Regions from separate parts of the Homo sapiens genome. Here all the other regions are linked to region 1. A link means that fine-mapping ties the variant in region 1 to the expression of a gene that starts in the linked region. Tissue or cell type: whole blood. Region 1 holds a variant in brackets; each other region holds the start of a gene. All regions are shown on one strand. Distances are from middle to middle.

Evidence for each region. PIP is the estimated chance that this variant, and not a neighbour inherited with it, causes the effect.
Region 2: CCR3 starts here. The variant in region 1 is fine-mapped to the expression of CCR3 in whole blood (INTERVAL, PIP above 0.99).
Region 3: it holds the start of CCR2, and the variant in region 1 is fine-mapped to the expression of CCR2 in whole blood (INTERVAL, PIP above 0.99).

The regions. Positions count from the first base shown.
Region 1 is chr3:46,213,701-46,221,810 of GRCh38, forward strand. It overlaps a transcript of CCR3 not described here. Among named protein-coding and RNA genes, the nearest start is that of CCR1, 9.4 kb to the left of the region's middle. RefSeq lists an enhancer at 7,968-8,110. The variant T/C (reference allele first, on the strand shown) is at 3,711.
Region 2 is chr3:46,238,765-46,246,874 of GRCh38, forward strand. CCR3 (C-C motif chemokine receptor 3) reads left to right here and starts at 3,696. Exons shown (of 2, transcript NM_178329.3): 1 at 3,696-3,774. RefSeq lists enhancers at 677-1,233, 5,630-6,174.
Region 3 is chr3:46,351,025-46,359,134 of GRCh38, forward strand. It overlaps CCR2 (C-C motif chemokine receptor 2), which reads left to right and starts at 3,087. Exons shown (of 2, transcript NM_001123396.4): 1 at 3,087-3,153; 2 at 6,453-8,110. The coding sequence starts at 6,504. The coding sequence ends at 7,586.

The sequences.
Region 1 (8,110 bases):
CTCTTCATACTTCCTGCTGCCAGCATCCAGCCTCTGACCACCACCTCCTACATTTACTACTCACTGCCTCTAGCACCTCAACTCCAACAGTTCTTTAACCCCAGTGGGACCTCCAGTCCACTGATATTTTAATTTTCCACTGACCTTCAGCCTCCTCATGCCCTCACTTCCCATCATCTTAAAAATCCATGAGCCATCATTACAGTCTCTCCCTTAAACACACCCTCAATTCCTTTGCTCTTTTCTGATCCTGTCATGCCCACTTGGCAAAATTTTGGTCCTAGTTAGATCCAGCTCCCCCACTTGCATCTGTGAAGTTAAATATGGCCAGAGAAAATCACACAACCACAGTGACTAGGGTGGCTCTAAATGATGATAGCTGTATCCAAAGCATCCTTAATGCCCATCAACTGCATTCCCCTCTTTTAGACATTATTTCACACCTTTTGCCTTTTCCTTAAACCTCCAACACCACCTGTTATCCTCATTCTTAGCTGATGATCTTGTTTCCTATTTCGCTGAGAAAATGAAAGCCATCAGAAGAAACTTTCTACAAGCCCCCACCTCTCACCTCCCCTGCTACCGGTCACTTTTTTCCTGGACAGTTCTCTGCCTCCCACCTGTTACATGGCTGGATTCTCCATGTTCCTGTCTAAACCCATCCCTTCCGCTTGTGCAGGATCCCAACCTCTCTCACTCACTCAAGGACATTGCTCTATTGATTTTCTCTCATCTTGTCAGTTTTTCCTGCTCTATTGCATTATTCCTATCCGAGTTATTTAATTTAGCAGCTTCATCTGGGACTCAGGTTCCTCCCATCTTTCTGCTCTGACATGTTCAGACCACCTCTGCTCAGGGATGTGGCTGCTGGGGTCACACTGAGGTATGAGGACATCTAACAGAGAAAAGGGCTGCCTTTTCTTTTTGCCAATTTATAGAAATAAGGAGCCCTGATGTTCTGTGATAAAACAGCCACTTGTGAGCCAGATCCTCTGGGGAGACCAGTAGATAGTGCCTCCACCTTTCCTCCCTGGGCAAGCAGAGGGTAATGGATGCTGCAGGGCAGTGTGGATGATGTAGGGAAGCCCCTTCCCTCAGGTCTTCTGGCACAGTGAAGTGCTTAGCAGAAAGCAGACACTGGGGGGCAGGATTTGAGAGCCTGTGAATGAACCAAGAGCACATTATCCCCTCCCAATGTCCCTTCCTGTCCCCAAACACACAAGTTTCTGGGGTGGTTCCTGCTGGCAGAGAGCCTGAGAGCATGGCCATTGTACCTGAAGAGGCTGGTGCCAAGAGCTGCCAACTAGAACCTGGTAGGTCTGTAATCTAAGTGCTCGCAAGAATGGGGCAGTGGCTCATTGTGGTTTGAGGCTGGCAGGGGGTCAGGCAGGAATGAAGAGCTGATAATGATCCTTGTACTCCAAACCTAAGCTCCAGACAGTCACATGTGTGTTCCTGTCACTTATTACATCCAGTCTGAGTGCTCATGCTGGTATTTGTTCCCTTACACCTCATCCATCACACAGCTATTAAGCATGTGTTCTCTCTGTCAAGCATGGAGTAGTTAAGAGTCCTAAAAGTTGAGTTAGGTAGGGCCTGGAAGTAGTGTTATGCAAGGTGAGGTATGTGAACCAGCAGCATCTGTGTCACCTGGGAGCTTGGTGGAAATGAAGGTTCTCAGGCCCCATTGAAGGTTAGACCCAGGAATCTGTGTTTTAACAAGTCCTCCAGGTGCTTCTTATTTATGCTAGAGTTTGAGAATCAGTGCTGGACCCTGCTGTTCAAAGTGATGGCAAAACCTGAGAGCTTACCAGAAATGCAGACTCTCAGGCCCCACCACAGGTTTACTGGGTGGGAGTCTGCATTTTTATCAGATCCCCAAGGGATTTGTTTGCACACGACAGTGTGAGACACCCTGGTCTAGAGGATCACGTTCTAGTGGGATAGAAGTCTGTATAGGGTTCAAGAGATACACAATGGAAGTTAGCTGGAGTCAGAAACACTTTGCATCGATGTTTACCCTGGGGCTAGAGAAATGAGTTGGAGTCTGCCAGAGGACCAAGAGGGCTGGAGATGAATGAATGGTGCCACAGAGCAACCCAGCACACCCCAGCACATTTCAGCTTGTAGATGTTCAGTAAACATTTTTTGGTTGGTCATGGGTTGTAGGGAGCAGGCTCACTAGGCTGCCCCTATAGATGGCTACTTCTGAGACCCAACCTGCAGCTTCACTTCATGGGAATAGCCAGAATCTGGGAGTCAGACACCTGACTTCAGATCTGGTTCCAGCACTGAGTTGGTGAAGCTGTGGAGGAAAAGTCATGCCTGCCTATTGCTGATGGGAGGGGAAATTGGGTCCCACTCCATGGAGGACTGTTTGGCAATAGCTATCGGAATTTGAAGTGTATGCATTTTTTATTCCAGCAATTCCACTTTTATGAATTTATCTTACAAATATTTACACATGTGGCAGAAGATACAGATTACAGGCACATTCACTGCAATGTAAGGGACTGATTAAGTCCCGCTGGAATGCTATGCAACTTTATGTGTTGACACGAAACGCCCCCCAGGTTGGAGTGCCAAGTGAATGAGCAAGGACCTTGTACTATGTACACACTGCACACATTGGGTGAGCTTGAAGGCACCTGTGTCTCTGGAAGAATAATTGGTGTGCCTGAGGAAGAAAGGGAATCTAAAACTTATCTGAAAACGTATCTGAGGGAATAATTGAGGAAAATTTCTCCAGTCTTGCTAGTGATCTAGAAATCCAAATACAAGAAGCTCAAAGAACACCTGGAAAATTCATCACAAAAAGATCATCATCTAGGCACCTAGTCATCAAGTTACCTAAAGTCAAGATGAAGGAAAGACTCTTAAGAGCTGTGAGGCGAAAACCTCAGCTTCTCCTTTATAGGTAATCTATAATGAAAACCTATCAGATTAACAGCAGAATTCTCAGCAGAAACCCTGCAAGTCAGAAGATGTTGGGGTCCTATCTTTTGCCTCCTTAAAATAATTATCACCCTAGAGCGTTGGATCCAATCCAACTAAGCTTCATTAATAAAGGAAGATAAAGTATTTTTCAGGTAAACAAATGCTGAGAGAATTCACCACTACCAAGCCAGCACTACAAGAACTGCTAAAAAGAAGTCCTAAATTGTGAAATAAAACCTCAAAATATACCAAAATAGAACCTACTTAAAGTGAAAATCTCACAGGACCTATAAAACAATAACACAATGAAAAAAAAGGTATTCAGGCAACAACTAGCATGATGAATAGAACAGTACCTCACATCTCAATACTAACATTGAATGTAAATGGCCTAAATGCTTCACTTAAAAGAAATAGAATGACAGATAGATAAAAATCCACCAAACTCACATAAACTTAAGGTAAAGTGAGGGGGAGGGAAGACATTCCATGCAAATGGAAACCAAAAGCAAGCAATAGTAGCTATTCTTATATCAGTCAAAACAGACTTAAAACCAACAACAGTTAAAAAAGACAAAGAGAAACATTATGTAATGATAAAAGTATTAGTCCAACAGGAAAATATCACAATCCTAGATATATATGCACCTAACACTGGAGCTCCCAAATTTATAAGACAATTACTACTAGACCTGAGAAATGAGATTGATGGCAACACAATAGTCGTAGGGGAAGTCAGTACTCTTCTGACAGTACTAAACAGGTCATCAAGA[T/C]AGAAAGTCAACAAAGAAACATTAGACTTAAACTGTACCCTAGAACAAATGGACCTTACAGATATTTACAGAACATTCTACCCAAAAACTGCAGAATATACATTCTTTTCATCAGCTCATGGAACATTCTCCAAGATAGACTATATGATAGGCCACAAAATAAGTTTCAATAAATTTAAGAAAATCAAAATTGTATCAAGTACTCCGTCAGACCACAGTGGAATAAAATTGGAAATTAAAAGTTAAAAGGAACTGCCAAAACTACACAAATACATGGAAATTAAATAATCTGCTCCCAAATGATCCTTGGGTTAACTATAAAATCAAGAGGGAAATTTAGCAATTCTTTGAACTGAATGACAATAGTAACACAACTGATCAAAACCTCTGGGATACAGCAAAAGCGGTGCTAAGAGGAAAGTTCATAGCATTAAACCCCTACATCAAAAAGTCTGAAACAGCACAAATAGACACCTAAGGCCACACCTCAAGGAACCAGAGAAACAAGAACAAATCAAACCTGAACCAAGCAGAAGGAAAGAAATACAAAGATCAGAGCAGAACTAAATAAAACTGAAACAAACAAAAAAAAAATACAAAAGCTAAATGAAACAAAAAGTTGGTTCTTTGAAAAGATAAGCAAAATCGATAGACCATTAGCAAGATTAACCAAGAAAAGAAGAGAGAAGTTCCAAGTAAGCTCAATTAGAAATGAAATGGGAGATACTATAAATGATGCCACAGAAATGCAAAAGATTATTCAAGGCTACTATAAGCAAACTTATGTGCACAAACTAGAAAACCTAGAGGAGATGGATAAATTCCTAGAAATGTACCACCCTCCTAGATTAAACCAGGAAGAAATAGAAACTCTGAACAGACCAATAACAAGCAGCAAGATTAAAATGGTAATTTTAAAAATTGCCAACAAAAAAAAAAAGTCTAGGACCAGATGGATTGACAGCTTGAATTCTATCAGGCATTCAAAGAAGAATTGGCACCAATCCTACTGACACTATTCCAAAAGATAGAGAAAGAAGGAATCCTCCCTAAATCATTCTATGAAGCTAGTATTACCCTAGCTTCATACCAAAACCAGGAAATGACGTAATGAAAAAAGAAAACTACTGATCAATATCCCTCATGAATGTGGATGCAAAAATCCTCAACAAAACACTAGGTAACCGAATTCAACAGGATATCAAAAAGGTAATGCACCATAATCAAGTGGATTTCATACCAGGGAGGCAGGGCTGATTTAACATATGTAAGTCAATAAATGTGATATACCACATAAACAGAAGTAAAAACAAAAATCATATAATCATCTCAATAGATTCAGAAAAAGTATTTGACAAAATCCAGTTTCCATTTATGATTAAAACCCTTAGCAAAATCAGCATAGAAGGGACATACCATAAGGTAATCAAAGCCGTCTATGACAACCCCACAGCTAACATTATACTGAAAAGGGGAAAGTTGAAAGCATTTTCTCTGAGAACTGGAACAAGACAAGGATGCCCACTTTCACACTTCTATTCAGCATATTACTGGAAGTTCTAGCCAGAGCAGTCAGACAAGAGAAAGAAACAAAGGCCATCCAAATTAGTAATGAAGAAGTCAAACTGTCGCTGTTTGCCCATGATATGATCACATACCTAGAAAACTCTAAAGACTCATCCAAAAAGCTCCTAGATCTGATAAAGGAATTCAGTAAAGTTTCAGGATACAAAATCAATGTACAAAAATCAGTAGCACTGCTATACACCAACAGCAACCAAGCTGAGAATCAAATCAAAACCTCAACCCCTTTTATAACAGCTGCAAAAAATAATATTATAAAATACTTAGGAATATACCTAATCAAAGAGGTGAAAGATCTCTACAGGGAAAACTACCAAACACTGCTGAACGAAATCATAGATGACACAAACAAATAGAAACACATCCCATGCTCACGGACAGGTAGAATCAATGTTATGAAAATGACCATACTGCCTAAAGCAATCTATAAATTCAATGCAATTCTCATCAAAATGTCATCATCATTCTTCACAGAACTAGAAAAAAAATCCTATAATTCATATGGAACCAAAAAAGAGCCCACAAAGCCAAAGCAAGACTAAACAAAAAGAACAAATCTGGAGGCCTCATATTACCCAACTTCAAACTATACTACAAGGCTATAGTTACCAAAACAGCGTGGTACTGGTATAAAAATAGGCACAGGCAGATAGACCAATGGAACAGAATAGAGAACCCAGAAATAAAGCCAAATACTTACAACCAACTGATCTTTGACAAAGCAAACAAAAACATAAAGTGGGGAAAGGACACCCTTTCCAACGAATGGTACTGGGATAATTGTCAAACCACATGTAGAAGAATGAAACTGAATCCTCATCTCTCACCTTAGACAAAAATCATCTCAAGATGGATAAAAGACTTAAATCTAAGACCTGAAACCATGAAAAGTCTAGAAGATAACATCAGAAGAACTCTCCTAGACATTGGCCTAAGCAAAGAGTTCATGTCCAAGAACCCAAAAGCAAATGCAACAAAAACAAAGATAAATAGATGGGACTGAATTAAACTAAAAAGCTTCTGCATAGCAAAAGTAATAATCAGCAGAGTAAACAGACAACCCACAGAGTGGGAGAAAATCTTTGCAAACTGTGCATCTGACAAAATGGTGAATATCCAGAATTTACAAGGAACTTAAATCAGCAAGAAAAGAACAAATAATCCCATCAAAAAGCGGGCTAAGGACATGAGTAGACAATTCTGAAAAGAAGATACACAAGTGGACAACAAACATATGAAAAAATGCCCAACATCACTAATTATCAGGGAAATGCAAATCAAAACCACAATGCAATATCATCTTACTCCTGCAAGAATGGCCATAATTAAAAAATCAAAAAATAATAGATAATAATAATAGATGTTGGCAGGGATGTGGTGAAAAGAGAATATTTTTACACTGCTGCTGGGCATGTAAACTAGTACAACCACTATAGAAAACAGTATGGAGATTCCTTAAAGAACCAAAAGTAGAACTACCATTTGATTCAGCAATCCCACTACTGGGTATCTACCCAGAGGAAAAGAAGTCGTTACAATGAAAAAGGCACCTGCACATGCATCTTTACAGCAGCGCAATTCACAATTGCAAAAATATGGAACCAAAGTAAATGTCCGTCAACTAACGAGTGGATAAAGAAAATGTGATATACATATACCATGGAATTCTACTCAGCCACAAAAAGGAACAAAATAATGTCATTCCCAGCAACCTGGATGGAGTTGGAGACCATTATTCCAAGTGAAGTAACTCAGGAGTGGAAAACCAAACATCCTATGGTCTCACCTATAAGTGGAAGCTATGCTGTGAGGATATAAAGGCATCAGAATGACATAATGGACTCTGGAGACTTAGACGGAAGGGTGGGAAAGAGACAAGGGATTAAAGACTACACGCTGGGTGCAGTGTACACTGCTTAGGTGATGGGGGTACCAAAATCTCAGAAATCACACCTAAGGAACTTATCCATGTAACCAAACACCACGTGTTCCCCAAAAACTATTGAAATAATAAAATAAAATGATGCACATGAAGAATTTAGCAAATAATGTAAACTCAACAAACTCTGTTATTATGGTTACCTAAACTCTGTTAGACCCACCTTCGCCTTAGTGATATTAAGTTCACAACTTGAACTTGGCCACGGAGAGTATTTACACCAAGGAAACTGGAAATTGATGCTATTATATCAGGCATGTTGTGCCTGTTTTGATTCTTCCTCCAGAAAGCTGGTTGTTAACATTTACCAGCACACCATTGCAGAGTACCTATAGGCCATGAATGTACAGGGAAGATGTTTGCATTTCTTTCATCTTAAGTCTTCAAGGACAAATGGATCTGACAACAGCAACAAATACTGTATCTGAGTTTATATAAATCTTTGGTTTCAGCAGAAATAGCTTTTACTTGAATATCTGCTCTTCCCACTAGCAGCTGGGGCCTGATTCCCTAGTTGTAGGGGTATTCCTGCACATGCAAGATGCACCCCTCACATGCCCCCCGCAGCCCAATCCTTCACAAAGAGAGGTCCTGACCTTGGCTGGGCTATGTTTCAAGTCACACAAACAGTTCAAACCACACGGCTCTGCCTGCAGTTGAGGCATCTTGAACCCAATTTGCACTTCCCTTTTCTAGACTTTTAGTCTTATTCCTGTCTTCCTTTTCCCTCTGTGGGTTATTCTGCGGGGTGGGCTATTTTGTTTTGCTTAAGCCTTCATTTTTGAGCTTGCTTTCCTCCAAGAACCCCTGGCAGGTTTCCGGTTGTTGAAATGCACATTCACTTCTTCCAAAGGATCATCCTGTGTTCTTTTGCCCC
Region 2 (8,110 bases), 25 kb after region 1:
ACCCTACAATCACTGATACATGGAATAACACAAATGAATCTCAAACTCATTATGCTGAGAAAAAAGCTAGACACAGGAGTAGATATGGCATGATGCCATTTATATATGATATTCTAGAACAAGCAAAACTAAGCTAGAGCAACATAACGCAGATCAGCGGTTGCCTGGGACAGGGGATAAGGGAGTCATTGATTGAAATGGGGCATAAGGTACTTTTTGAGGTGTGAAAATGTCCTGTATTTGATTATGATGGTGATTCAGAGAGGTATGCAATTGTTGAATTTGTTGACCTGTACCCTTAAAATGGGTGCAAGCAAATGACACTTCAATATGTTGTTAACTGAAAAACTAATGAGGGAAATCGTAGAGATTATTACAAGAATCTGCCTTATTGCAAAATGCCAGAAAAAAATGCTGTCCCGTCCTCTTTGTTTTTCTCCAAGGTGTAGAAATGGAAGTGACTGAATTTTTACAATCTCTTGCGAATTAGCTATTAAAAATCTTATGCATGTAGCTTCTTTACAGAAATCTCCAAATGCTTTTTAAATCTTTGTAACCTTCTAGGAAATACTATAATTTGTTGATTTCAGATGAAGAATGCTTTGTTATAGTTTTAACTCTGCAGAGATGTCATTTGGTAATTGTGATTATTTATCAAGCTCCTACCATGTGCTTCATCTTAGCCAAAATTTCCACTGTAGATGGTGAAATTAGGGCTCAGGAAGGCTACATGACTCATCTATATGAGCCATAAATGGGCGAGGTGAACCCGGTCTGTGTGGTGCTAAATCCCAGGTGCCTTCTATTTCACCACTGGTGAGAACACAGAGTGCTAATTAAGGAGACTGGAGCTGGAATTTCCACTCCACCATTTAGTCATGTGTGAGCTTGGACAGGTCACTTGATCTCAATTCCCTTATCCACAGGTTAGGTGATTACCAGCATTGCTCCTCATTCTGGTCTACTGCGTAGTCCCAGGTGGAGCAGTTTGCATTGATTACCCTGTGAATGGCACCCCATGGAGGCAGCTCTGGGATGACAATCTCCCTATTAAGTTAAAAGGTCATTGTGGGATTTCCACCCAGAAAATTTATGTGGAATACTCTGAAAACCCTCAAACACTGATCTCAAATAAGGTAGTACCAGTACTATAACTCAAAATCCTTCAATAGCTCCCACATTTCCATGGAATCTACTGTGAACTCGTCAACTCTTTATAATCTAGCCAAAACCAGCAGTCAATCTTATCTCCCTCCACTCTTTGCTCCATGCCCACTACCTCTGCCAGGCCCATGCCTTTCCTGTCTTCAGATGTCATTGACCGCCTGTTGGCATGTCATGTGATCTAGGGATAAAACTCCCCAGATAAAGTGAAAGGAGTGGAAGCCAGATGCACCACAATGGGCCTGCAAAATTCCACCCTCTGCCAGAGACCTGCAGGTGGCTCTGAATGCTCTGCAGGGCTGGAGCTTCTGAATGTGTGTCACCCTAACAGATGTATATAATGTGTTACACATTTTAAAATGTGTATGTGTGTATATATATTAATCTCCCTGGCTCTTGGTTCCTGGCATTAGGATGCAAGCATATCTGTTCCCTAATTTCATTCCTGCCTACCCCTGCACAGGGACCAAGCTCACCTCACCTCTTGGTCTTGGTAGCTCTACTTCCTTTTTCCTGGAAACTCTCCCTACCCCTTCCACATGGCCAAATTCTGTTCATCCCTCGGGCCCTTTCTCTTCCATGAAGCCGTTCCCAGTCCCTTCAGCCCACATGGTCCTGTTTTCTAAACCCTGTAGAACTTGCATTTGACATCCCACATGCTGAATCAGAGCACAATATATTATACTATATTTCAGACCACCCTGAGTGGCTGCCTCTTTCTCACTGAGAGGGTCTGTCATGACAACTATGATAAGTATTTTCATGACGCTGTCCACATGCCACACACTGGCCTCCACGTAGTCCTAATTTATTTGCTCCTCACACAGATCCTACAAGCTAGGCATTGCTACATCATTTTGCAGTAGAGCACGCTGAGGCACACAGAGGTTATGTAGCTTGCCCACGGTGATATCCCTATTAAGCGGTAAAGGTAGGTTTTGCATTCAGGTGTCCAGCAGCAAAGTCTGAGATCTTACTATCAGTCGAAAATTTTGTTTTAGCCAATTTGAATATGCTATATTGAATATGCTGTAGATTAAATAGTGAAATGTTTCTTTGGTTATGCTTTAACTATATTTGAGCATTCTTGATATTTTATCAGGTCTCTGTTGTCTCTGATCACCAACAAGGTTATAGACTCTTTAAGGTGGAAACTGAGCCCCTTCCTCCCTTTCTTCTCTTTCTCTCAAATTCTCTCCCTATTCTTTCTCTCTCTCTCTAATGCACATGTGTGTGCGCTCTCTCTCTCTCTCTGTCTCTCTTATCCTCCTTCCTCTTTCTTTGTCTTTTGTTCCTATGTTTTCTTTATCATGAAGCATACAGCACAGTCCTACACACATATCAAACGTTTGATAAACACTTTGGTGCATTACACTCATTTGTCGAGTTAGTCAGTGTATCAAAGATCACTTCATGCTTAGTCAGAGTTCTTCCCACAAATATTGGGTGAATACCTGCTCTGTGCCCAGTGCCATGCTAGGTCCCAAGGGACACATCAGCACATACAGCAGGCACATGGCTCTGCCCTGTGACGCTTTGCCCTGAGACATGGCTCTGCCCTATGACGCTTATGTCACAGTGGCATTCTACCCACACTTTACATTTCCTTAGCCCTGTATATTCTGCAGAGACTTTTCACATATTTATCTTAGTTGGTTCCACGGCAATGCTATGACTTAAATATCATTATTTCCAGTTTAGAGATGAAAAAGCTGAGGTCCAGCAAGTTTAAATTACTACCCCCAGCTTATGTAGCTGTGTATGCCACAACTGAAACTCAAACTCAAGTCTTTTAGACTTGTCTAAACCTTTGCAGCCACATTTTGCCCCATCCAAGTGTCTACTGGACCCTGCAGAATAATTAGTTTATTCCTTTGCCGGGAAATTCTTATTTCATTCTTCATCCTGTCTCCCGATGAGTCAAATCAATGCTTATTCAAGAATTATAAATCCCAGGTCTTTAGGAGGCCGAGACTCGCAGATCACTTGAGGTCAGAAGTTTGAGACCAGCCTGGCCAACATGGTGAAACCCTGTCTCTACTAAAAATACAAAAATTAGCCAGGCATGGTGGCATGTGCCTCTAATACCAACTATTCCAGAGGCTGAGGCAGGAAAATCCCTTGAACCCAGGAGGTGGAGGTTGCAGTGAACTGAGATCATGCCACTGTACTCCAGCCTGGGTGACAGAATGAAATCCTGTCTTAAAAAAAAAAAAAAAATTATAACAACCCCCCACCACTAAAAATGAGCAATGCCAATGGGTGGAGAGCCCCTAAAGCAGCACTAATTGCAAGGATTTCTCAGGTGACTGGTTAGTATGTGGTGTCAATCATGAAAAAGAAGAACTGCACGAAAGTATCTTTCTGAAAACTTGCAAAACTGAGAAGCTAGTCTGTTTAAAACAGGAAGTTATATACTTACATTGTTTACTACTTTACTAATGTCTGTGATCTGATGGTATCTCTGTTTCAGGAGTGGTGACGCCTAAGCTATCACTGGACATATCAAGGACTTCACTAAATTAGCAGGTACCACTGGTCTTCTTGTGCTTATCCGGGCAAGAACTTATCGAAATACAATAGAAGTTTTTACTTAGAAGAGATTTTCAGGTAGGTGTCGCTTTTCCAGGAAAAGGGAGGTGGAACAAGGAGGGGTCCAGGCAGGTGGAAGTAGTAACTTCCAGCAGTGCTCTTGGATCTAGGAGGGAGGAGAGGAAGGTACACAGCAATTTAGAGGTAGTATGGGGCCAGAGTGGGAGAAAATATGGCCACATATCTCCATTTTCTTCTTGCTTTTTCTAATTTTCCCTTTCTGTCTCCCATCCACACAATGATAAGTTTGCGTGTAGCACTCACCCAAACTTGGCCCTTTATACCTCTTTAGTCAACATCTGTGCCCATGTTACCCTCCTATACTTTCACAAATTCTCAACTATGTGCATATGACTACTCCAAAGAGCTTACACTTAATAGCTTGTGTTTATTTATATTGACTTGTAAGAAATAGCAAAAATATAATTTTACATATATATGTGTATATATATATATATACACATATATATATATATATATATACGCACACACACATACATTTTTATATATACAAAGTCCTCCCTCAGTATCTGTGAGGGATTTGTTCCAGGACCCTTGCAGATACCAAAATTCATAGATGCTCAAGTTCCTTATATAAAATGATGTAGTATTTGCTGATAACCTACAAATATCCTCCAGTACCCTTTAAATACAAGTACCTAGATTACTTGTAATACCTAATACAACGCATACAGAGCGCTTCATTCATGTGGAGTCAACATAGCACTTGCTGCGTGGCAAATTCAAGGCTTGGTTTTTGCAACTTTGTGGAGCTTTTTCCCAGATATTTTTGATCCGTGATTGGTTGAATACACAAATGTGGAACCCATGGATACAGAGGGCTGATTATATACATATGTGTGTGTGCATTAAGTATGTATGTGTGGAAATATATATATTTATTTGAAGTTTTCATTGAAAATCCACACTAAATCAAGCTACTAGATGAGTCAGTTGATTGATTTGGTGTCTTTTTTTCTGGGTGAATGAGATTGTCTGTGTTAGAGGGTAGAGCTAGAAAGCCTTACCGATTCTTCTGGAAACGCCTGGATTGACAGAGGATGAGTGTTAACTTTGACAAGTACTTCAAGTGAGAGTGGTGGGAATAAGGGGTCTTCCACATGGATGTGGTATAAGTTGAAGTATATTTTTGAAGTGCAGCTCTTTCCAGAAAATGGTGATGATTACACTGAACCACGCAGGATGAGTTAGCTCTTCTGGGAGAAGAAATATGAGCCCTTTGTATGACTTAATAAGAAAAAAGCAGATCTGTACAGCAGAATAAATTGGGTAAAGGGCACAAAGAGATAAATCACAGGAAGGGAAATATGAATGACTAATACTTGTAGTTAAAAAAAATCAGTAATGAAATAAATGTTAATTACAACAATAATGGCAACCCTTTTGCCCATCTAATTGGCCAAGTAATTTTTTCTTTCTTTTAGATCTTCTCCATATTGATGGATGCTTGCTGAAATGGGCACCATCACCTACTAGTGCCAAGAGTATATATATTGTTACACACTTTCTGGAAGCAATTTGACAAAATGCATCAAGAGACTTCGAAATATAATTCAATGTAGAAATTGTGATTTGTGTAATATACCTTAAGGAAATAATTTTAAAATGCACACAAATATGTTTATTGCAGTATTATTTATAGCAGAGCAAATTGTGAATAACTTAATCACACAACAAAAAGGCAATGGTTAAATAAGCATGATTATCTATACAATATGTTGGAGTCATTACAAATTACATTTTTAAGTAATTTTTAGCCACAAGGAACTAGGTGAAAGGTAAAGAAGTTAAGGTATCAGAATACAAAATGATATACAAGTGTACTATCTTTCATGCGCGTCCGTGTGAAGAGACCACCAAACAGGCTTTGTGTGAGCAATAAAGCTTTTTAATCACCTGGGTGCAGGCAGGCTGAGTCCGAAAAGAGTCAGCGAAGGGAGATAAGGGTGGGGCCGTTTTATAGGATTTGGGTAGATAAAGGAAAATTACAGTCAAAGGGGACTTGTTCTCTGGCGGGCAGGAGTGGGGGTCACAAGGTGCTCAGTGGGGGAGCTTTTTGAGCCAGGATGAGCCAGGAAAAGGGACTTTCACAAGGTAATGTCATCACTTAAGGCAAGGACCAGCCATTTTCACTTCTTTTGTGGTGGAATGTCATCAGTTAAGGCGGGGCAGGGCATTTTCACTTCTTTTGTGATTCTTCAGTTACTTCAGGCCATCTGGGCATATATGTGCAAGTCACAGGGGATGTGATGGCTTGGCTTGGGCTCAGAGGCCTGACACTGTCAATTATAACATACATGGTACCTGGAAAGGCAGTGGCTCTCTCTCCATAGCACAGTTGGAGGTGGAAGCACTGGGTCCCAGAAAGCTGAAATTCTGGTCATGGTGACTATCCCACAACCATGTTATTTGGAATGTATATGCATACTTTCCTTGTGAAAACATATTCTTCATGACCAACTCCTTCAATAATCCAAAATCATTTGGCTGGTGGGCGAAACCCTGTCACTTAAGATGAACTGACCGCACTCAGACACAATTCTGAAAGACACAAGCATGAGGTGTAACTTTTGCATTAGTAACTATTATTAATGATTGGAAGCTCTGGAAATCCATGTGCTGCCCTAAAATACCAATTCTGGGAAATGTTTGTGGCTGGAAAGAAGACTGCATTCATTCATGATTTGAACTTTGAGAGGCTCTTCTTGTGTATTTCCAGGGAAGAAGCTCACTGGCTCCCTCATTCCGTTCCTGCACTGTTCTCAGAAAGTTCTTCCCCATGTGTGGATGTATCTAGTATCCTCCAAGGTCATCAAATTTCTGCTCTATGAGAGTCTACTTCCTCTTCTACAGGAAGAACTATCGTATCATAGACTTTTCTATCTTACGTGGGCCTAAAACATTGCCTAATCCAACCCTTTAATTAAAAAAAAAAACTTTGATCCAGACCAAAGGCATACAAAAACAAAACAAAACAAAACAAAACCTAAAATGAATCCAAATATGATTATTTTCCTTTTTTTTAACTTTTATTTTAGGTTTGGGGGTACATGTGAAGCTTTGTTACGTAGGTAAACTCGTGCCATGGGGGTTTGTTGTACAGATTATTTCATCACCCAGGTATTAAGCCTAGTAGCCAATACTTGTTTTTCTGCTCCTCTCCCTCCTCCCACTCTCAAGTAGACCCCTGTGTCTGTTGTTCTCTTCTTTGTGTTCATGAGTTCTCATCATTTAGCTCCCACTTATAAGTCAGAACATGTCGTATTTGGTTTTTTCCCTGCATTAGTTTGCTAAGGATAATAGCTTCTAGCTCCATCCATGTTCCTGCAAAAGACACTATCTGTTTTTTTATGGCTGCATAGTATTCCATGTGTATATGTACCACATTTTCTTTATCCAATCTGTCATTGATGGGCATTTAGTTTGATTTCATGCAAAGGCTATTATTTTTCATACAAAACATTCCAAGTTCTGCCAACTATGGCTGATGTTTTGGGACTGTTATCATCCTACTTCCTTCTATAGTCTAGGTTGATACTAACCCTCTTAAAATTTGGTGCCTGGAACAGAACATAATATTTCAGATGTGTAGTCTGGACAGTGCAAAGCAGAGTAAAAATTATTCTACTCCATCCTTTCATACACTTAAGAAGAGTTTATTAAGCATCTTTCATTTGTCAGGCATCATGCTGGACACTAGGCCTGTACTGTCCACTATGGTGGCTACTTGCTTTTATGCGTGTCCGTGTGAAGAGACCACCAAACAGGCTTTGTGTGAGCAACATGGCTGTTTATTTCACCTGGGTGCAGGCGGGCTGAGTCCGAAAAGAGAGTCAGCGAAGGGAGATAAGGGTGGGGCCGTTTTATAGGATTTGGGTAGGTAGAGGAAAATTACAGTCAAAGGGGGTTTGTTCTCTGGCGGGCAGGAGTGGGGGTCGCAAGGTGCTCAGTGGGGGTGATTTTTGAGCCAGGATGAGCTAGGAAAAGGACTTTCACAAGGTAATGTCATCACTTAAGGCAAGGACCGGCCATTTTCACTGCTTTTGTGGTGGAATGTCATCAGTTAAGGTGGGGCAGGGCATATTCACTTCTTTTGTGATTCTTCAGTTACTTCAGGCCATCTGGGCGTATATGTGCAAGTCACAGGGGATGGGATAGCTTGGCTTGGGCTCAGAGGCCTGACATTCCTGCCTTCTTATATTAATAAGAAAAATAAAACAAAATAGTGTTGAAGTGTTGGGGTGGCGAAAATTTTTGGAGGGTGGTATGGAGAGAGAATGGGCGATGTTTCCCAGGGCTGCTTCAAGCGGGATTAGGGGCGGCGTGGGAACCT
Region 3 (8,110 bases), 140 kb after region 1:
GGAATGGACCCCTGTAACAAAAGACAGATTAACACGAGAAAAGTTTATTAACGTACATATTTTATACGTACATAGGAGCTATCCAGGGAATGAATAATTCTTAAAAAGGTGACTTTGAATTCCAGCTCATATAGCATCTTCAACAAAGTTCAGTAACATTTTAGAGATATGACAAGACAAAGAAAATGAACTTTGAGCCTCTAGGGACAGTGACTTGTAGGAAGGCAAAAGGAATAAATGGAGGTAAAGGCTGGTTAGTAATACTTGTTAATGAAGATTCCTCTGGTGCCATCTCCAGGTCCACAAGGATTTAAATTTGTCTTCAGTGGTGAACCTTTGTTCACCCTGGCAGAAGGTGTGGAGGGGGGTGCAGATCCGTTTTGTCTTTGTAAGTCTATATCCTGCTTTTAGACAAATAAAGGGAGGGAAAAGAGCTTTCCTTCATCTGCTTCTTAATTGCCTTCAGCTCAACAATCCTTATGCAAAAGAGGTACATTTTAGGGTGTCAAATTCTGGTCTCCCACAAAGCATAGGGATGACAGACCACCTCACCATCCCTGTTGCTTCTTTTAAGCCTGCTCACCCCTCCAAAAATATTTTCATTCTATACTGTCTCTTCAAAATCTCAGCGGAGGGTGCCCTCTGTTATCCTGCCCTCTGTGTCAGTATAAGCCAAAGGTTTGAATCCTGGCTCTGCAACTATCTACCTCTGTGCCTCTCCTTGTTTATGAAATTACAGGGCTGGAGACAAAGATCACAATGTGAAGACAAAATTGGAGAGCGGTCCTAATCAGCCAGAGCAAAATTTCTGGCTCTTGCTCTTCCCCATCCTGGGTTGAATCATAGGAACAGGTGGCAAGATGCCAGGGTCAGGAGATTCCAGAAGTGGCAGCAAGCTCAGTGTTACCAGGTCAGGGATGACCTGTCTTATTATTGAAATCTCAGAGATATGCTCCAATTCCGGCCCAGAGACACATTGAGAGACAACTGGGGAACTTGCTATGTTCCTGAACAGGCAATGAGCTGTCTTCCAAGAAAAAACCTGAGACCCTTCAAGTCTCAGGTCTTACTTAGCACATATACCAGGTCTTACACAGGACACATGGTTACAACTGACTGAAATCTGGGCTGGGTGTAGGAGCTCACACCTGTAATCCCAGCCCTTCAGGAGGCTGAGGCAGGCAGATTGCCTGAGCCCAGGAGTTCGAGACCAGCCCGGGCAACATGACAAAACCCCATCTCTACAAAAAATAGTCAGGCATGGTGGCATGCACCTGTAGTCTCAGCTACTTGGGAGGCTGAGATGAGAGGATTGCTTGAGGTTGAGACTGCAGTGAAGCATGATCATGCCACCGCACTCCAGCCTAGGCAACAGAGCAAGATCTTGTCGCAAAAGAAAGCAAAAACACAACATAACACAACAACAACAACAACAACAACAACAGCAAAAAAGCCAACTTCTTGAAATCTGGAAAGGACACCTGGACTGCCCTGAGCATTTGATTGTTGTTGGCTCTAGCAGTGGATGCATCCTTCAACCTCTGGCACTCTGCAGGGCTCAGACTGTTCTGTTCTGTTTGTTACCTGTGGAGTGCCTGCCAGACCCTGCTCTAGCTGCTTTAGGTCCATTTACCCTCATAGACCCCCAGTCTTGTTATTCATATTTCATATTTGGGAAATGGAAACTTAGAAACTTGCCAAGTCCACAGCATGAGATCCTGCCTCCGGTGTCTGCTGGATTCCAGAAAGTGCCAGGGGCCAACTTAGATGACACCATGTTCTCTGCACAATCTTAGGAATGCTCCTAGTCTGATGTCCCCATTGCAAAATTTACATTATCTTTTAACAAAACGTCTTTCCAAGGAGGGGCATTTAAAATAACTGAGGTTCTTCTTGCTAAGGACGTTCCTGACACAAGAGATAATTTAGCATTTCCTTTTCATTAAAAAGTTTGAAATCCTGTAATTTGTGATAATGTGGATGAACCTAGAGGATGTTAAGTGAAATAAGCCACACACAGATAGACAAATACCACGTGATCTCACTCTTATGTGGAATTTTTTTTTAAATAAGTTGCTTAGCCGGGCATGATGGCACACACCTGTAATCCTAGCTACTCAGGAGGCTGAGGTGGGAGGATGGCTTGAACTCAGAAGGTGGAGGTAGCAGTGAGCTGAGACTGTGCCAGTGCACTCCGGTCTGGGTGACAGAATGAAACCCAATTTAAAAAAAAAAAAAAAGTTGCTATCTTAGAAAAAGACAGTAGAGCAGTGGTTACCAGAGACTGGGGAGGAAAGAGAGGAGGTGAGAATGGGCAGCAGTTGATCAACGGGTACAAAGTTACCATGAGATAGGAGAAACAAGTGCTGGTGCTCTGCTCCAAGTAGGGTGACGGTAGTTAATAATGAATTCTGTATATATAAATAGCTAGAAGAGAGGGTTTTCAATATCATTATTATTTCAAAAGAAATGATAAATGTTTCAGAGGATGGATATGTAATTACCCTGATTTGATCATTGCACAATGTATACATGTAGCAAAACATCACATTGTGTCCCATAAATATATACAATTATTATGTGAATTAAATAAAAAAAAATTTTAAAGTCTTATCTAAATGAAATTTCTAACCAGATTCTGAATCCATGATACCACTGAAACCAGCACACATGATCGCAGTAAAACCTCATTATACTTCCTCCACTATCACCAATACCCTTTATTCTCTGGAACATGAAACATTCTGTTGTGCTCATATCATGCAAATTATCACTAGTAGGAGAGCAGAGAGTGGAAATGTTCCAGGTATAAAGACCCACAAGATAAAGAAGCTCAGAGTCGTTAGAAACAGGAGCAGATGTACAGGGTTTGCCTGACTCACACTCAAGGTTGCATAAGCAAGATTTCAAAATTAATCCTATTCTGGAGACCTCAACCCAATGTACAATGTTCCTGACTGGAAAAGAAGAACTATATTTTTCTGATTTTTTTTTTCAAATCTTTACCATTAGTTGCCCTGTATCTCCGCCTTCACTTTCTGCAGGAAACTTTATTTCCTACTTCTGCATGCCAAGTTTCTACCTCTAGATCTGTTTGGTTCAGTTGCTGAGAAGCCTGACATACCAGGACTGCCTGAGACAAGCCACAAGCTGGTGAGTTGTAGGCATTTTTTCCATTACTTTCTGATTCATAGGCTCAACGCACCTCAAAGCTGGAAATGCCGGGTCTGGGTACACCCTGGGGAACTGCAAAGCCTGCACACTTGGGGGGAATGATCAAGATGAGAGGCAGGGGTGGGGATGGCATGTGCACCAGGAGATGTTAGAGAAACCCTGAGGAAGAGCAGCGTGCAGCAGGTGATGGGGGAGAGTGGGCAGCAAGCGAGGCCAGGACAGCCACTCTGCTCAGTCACCAGTCCACACACCCAGGGGCTCACTCTGCCCCTCTGAGCACCCAAGGACGTTAAAGAGCTGGAACTGTTAGTCTAAATATAGGACCATCCAAGCTCTGAACCAAAATGTGTCCCTTGCCTCAACTCAGGAGATCCACAGAGGCAGAAGTAAGGAATTTATTTTCTGAAAGATAGATTTCTATCAGTTCTGGGTGACATGTTCTGACACTTGAAATGACACCTAGGACAGCACATTTCAGGCATCTTGCTCATTGTTCACTGTAGTAGAAGCTACATGCTAGCCAGTTGTAAAAATGAAATTAAGTAATGTGTGCACAGCATTTAACATAGCATCTGAGCTTCAGGAGCACTCAATTAATGACCACAGTTGTGATTCTTTAGGCAGATGCATTTTTTTCCAACTTTGATCAGAGGTCTTATTTAGCTTCTCCAGATTTCAAGAATCTGGCTCAGTGATATGAAATACAAGACTTGTGAAAAGTGTCAATTGCAAGAGAAATGGAAGGATAAAGTATACAGGTGGGTGGAAAAGAAATTCACAGTCACTGCCAGAAAAAAAATTCTTGAGAATCAAGTCCTGATGATGTTAGGGCTTATAGTTCTTATTATAAAGAGTTTTATGTACTCATTCAGTGAACATTTATTGGTGCCTCCTTTAGCCAGGTACTATCATAAGAGCTGAAAATAGAAGCATAATCCAGTCCTTGATCTTGAGGAACATGCTGTGTGTAGCAGATAACATAATAAGTGCTTATCTAGATGCATGCAGTGTTATGTGATAAGAGTAATATGACAGAGGATACAGATTAGGCTTCACAGAGAAGGGGGATTTGAGCAGGAGGTATTGAAGGGTGAATAGAAGCTCACCAATCATTTTGGGCAGAGGGGCAAGGACCTGCAAAACCACTGAAGCATGAAGGAAATGGTGAGTTTAGGGAAAATGAAGAGAAGATGGCTGTGACTGAAGCACAGGATTTGGGATTGGAGAAGGGACTGGAGGTGAGGCTGAAAAGAGGCAAACTCAGAAAAGATGTTGTGCTGGGCAGTCTGGACATTATCTTTGAAGCCCACCACATATAAGTCATAGGGCTACTGGAGGTTTTAAGCTAAGAGTGACTATTCAATTTCAACTTAAGAGAAGATAGGTTGAGAGGGAACATGGCTTGAGATGAGCCATGAGCAAAGGAAAGACTACAACAAAGCCAGGAGTGAGGAGTGTGTGAAGCAAGAAAGTGACAGTTGAAAGCAGTGCAGAGGGGATGAATCTGAGAGGCATCTATGAGGTGGAACTCAAATGACATGATAATAATACAGGGCATTTCTCTGTGTCAGATGCTGTCCTAAGTCCTTACTCCATTGATCTTCACAGCAACTCAGCATAGTTAATATTTTATGCATAAAGAAATCGGCACTTGAAGGAGTAATTGGCCCCAGATTACACTGCCTATAAGGATTCAAATCCAGGTTTGTTTGGCTCCAAAAACTGGCTCCTAATTTTCAGAAGGAGAAGCAACCCAGGGCAATGCCCAATTTTGCTTCTTAGGCAATGGAGGAATCCACAATCGGAAGGAGTTTTCAGCAGTGCCCCATTTGGGGTGGGTTGAATTTGAGGTCCCTGCATGATACCCACTTTGCTCACTTCAGTGCCTAAAACTGAGTATGGTTCATAGTAGGTGTTCAATAAGTGTTGATGCAGTGAATACATGCATGGGGAGATATGCATCAGGCAATGGGAAATTCAACTCTAAGGCTTAGGGGAAAGCTGGAGCTTGAAGACAGAGCTTTAGAAAACAGTAGCATAGAAGGGAGTAGGAACCATGAGTTTAGACAATACAATTCAGGAAGAACTTTGTAGCAAGGATAAAGAGGCAAAAAATTAAAGAGGTGAGAGCTAAGTGTGGTGCCTGGGGAATCTTAAGGTGTGGGCACGGGGAGGAGATGCCAGCAAAGAACATGAATAAAAAGCGGTAGCACAGCCCCTCCCATCTGGAAGCCAAAAAGAATTGTAAATGGAGGAAGTTAGCAGAAGGATCAAATACTTGAAGAGGGTGGAATTGGAATAAAACCAGGGCATTTGAAAAATTGGGTTGTCACTGCAATCTTAACAAGAGAAGTTTTGGCAGGATGATGGAGGCAGAAAGCTGAGAGAATCATCAGTTAGAACGTTTTTGACTTCAGAGAACAGAAAATGCAGTTCATAATGGCTTTAAAACAGGGGCTTGTTTTTCTCCCAGCAATTTGAGAGGCCAAGGCGGGTGCATCAGGAGGTCAAGAGACCGAGACCATCCTGGCCAACATGGTGAATCCCCATCTCTACTAAAAATACAAAAATTAGCGGGGCATGGTGGTGCACGCCTATAGTCCCATCTACTCAGGAGGCTGAGGCAGGAGAATCACTTGAACCCAGGAGGTGGAGGTTGCAGTGAGCTGAGATCATGGCCACTGCACTATAGCCTGGAGACACAGCGAGACTCCGTCTCCAAAAAAAAAAAAAAAAGAAGGCAGAAGGTGAATAGTTCAAGGGTGGGTTTAGGACTCAGTGATAATAGGATTCTGCCTGGCTTCTCATGGTTCTCTAGGTCTTCCATTCATGGCACCATGCCCTCACTAGGCATGCTGCCAGAGCAGGAGGGGCAGGTGGAGGGTTCTCTTGTGTCTGTCTTATCAGGGAAGAAGAGCTTTCTCAGAAGCCCCCAGCAGACTCCCTTTTCATATTATGGTCCAGCAATGAGTCACAGACCTATGCACCACCTGCAAAGGAGCCAGAGAAAACAAACGCCCAGCGCTTTTAGCCTGAAAATGAGAATCTGGTTTGCTGGGGAAGATAAAGGGTGTCGGAAAATGGCTGTTGGGTAAATCATTGATGTCTGCCACTAGGAATGAAAGGCAAATCAGGAACTGGCACACATGCTTTCAGGGAGATGGCTGCAAGGGAGAGGGCAAAGACTGGGAAGTTGCTTATGTGGTGCCAGACTATTTGGAAGATCATGGATTGCGGTGTTTGTGTTGTGTGGTCATCATTTTGTTCTTTGTTTACAGAACAGAGAAAGTGGATTGAACAAGGACGCATTTCCCCAGTACATCCACAACATGCTGTCCACATCTCGTTCTCGGTTTATCAGAAATACCAACGAGAGCGGTGAAGAAGTCACCACCTTTTTTGATTATGATTACGGTGCTCCCTGTCATAAATTTGACGTGAAGCAAATTGGGGCCCAACTCCTGCCTCCGCTCTACTCGCTGGTGTTCATCTTTGGTTTTGTGGGCAACATGCTGGTCGTCCTCATCTTAATAAACTGCAAAAAGCTGAAGTGCTTGACTGACATTTACCTGCTCAACCTGGCCATCTCTGATCTGCTTTTTCTTATTACTCTCCCATTGTGGGCTCACTCTGCTGCAAATGAGTGGGTCTTTGGGAATGCAATGTGCAAATTATTCACAGGGCTGTATCACATCGGTTATTTTGGCGGAATCTTCTTCATCATCCTCCTGACAATCGATAGATACCTGGCTATTGTCCATGCTGTGTTTGCTTTAAAAGCCAGGACGGTCACCTTTGGGGTGGTGACAAGTGTGATCACCTGGTTGGTGGCTGTGTTTGCTTCTGTCCCAGGAATCATCTTTACTAAATGCCAGAAAGAAGATTCTGTTTATGTCTGTGGCCCTTATTTTCCACGAGGATGGAATAATTTCCACACAATAATGAGGAACATTTTGGGGCTGGTCCTGCCGCTGCTCATCATGGTCATCTGCTACTCGGGAATCCTGAAAACCCTGCTTCGGTGTCGAAACGAGAAGAAGAGGCATAGGGCAGTGAGAGTCATCTTCACCATCATGATTGTTTACTTTCTCTTCTGGACTCCCTATAATATTGTCATTCTCCTGAACACCTTCCAGGAATTCTTCGGCCTGAGTAACTGTGAAAGCACCAGTCAACTGGACCAAGCCACGCAGGTGACAGAGACTCTTGGGATGACTCACTGCTGCATCAATCCCATCATCTATGCCTTCGTTGGGGAGAAGTTCAGAAGGTATCTCTCGGTGTTCTTCCGAAAGCACATCACCAAGCGCTTCTGCAAACAATGTCCAGTTTTCTACAGGGAGACAGTGGATGGAGTGACTTCAACAAACACGCCTTCCACTGGGGAGCAGGAAGTCTCGGCTGGTTTATAAAACGAGGAGCAGTTTGATTGTTGTTTATAAAGGGAGATAACAATCTGTATATAACAACAAACTTCAAGGGTTTGTTGAACAATAGAAACCTGTAAAGCAGGTGCCCAGGAACCTCAGGGCTGTGTGTACTAATACAGACTATGTCACCCAATGCATATCCAACATGTGCTCAGGGAATAATCCAGAAAAACTGTGGGTAGAGACTTTGACTCTCCAGAAAGCTCATCTCAGCTCCTGAAAAATGCCTCATTACCTTGTGCTAATCCTCTTTTTCTAGTCTTCATAATTTCTTCACTCAATCTCTGATTCTGTCAATGTCTTGAAATCAAGGGCCAGCTGGAGGTGAAGAAGAGAATGTGACAGGCACAGATGAATGGGAGTGAGGGATAGTGGGGTCAGGGCTGAGAGGAGAAGGAGGGAGACATGAGCATGGCTGAGCCTGGACAAAGACAAAGGTGAGCAAAGGGCTCACGCATTCAGCCAGGAGATGATACTGGTCCTTAGCCCCATCTGCCACGTGTATT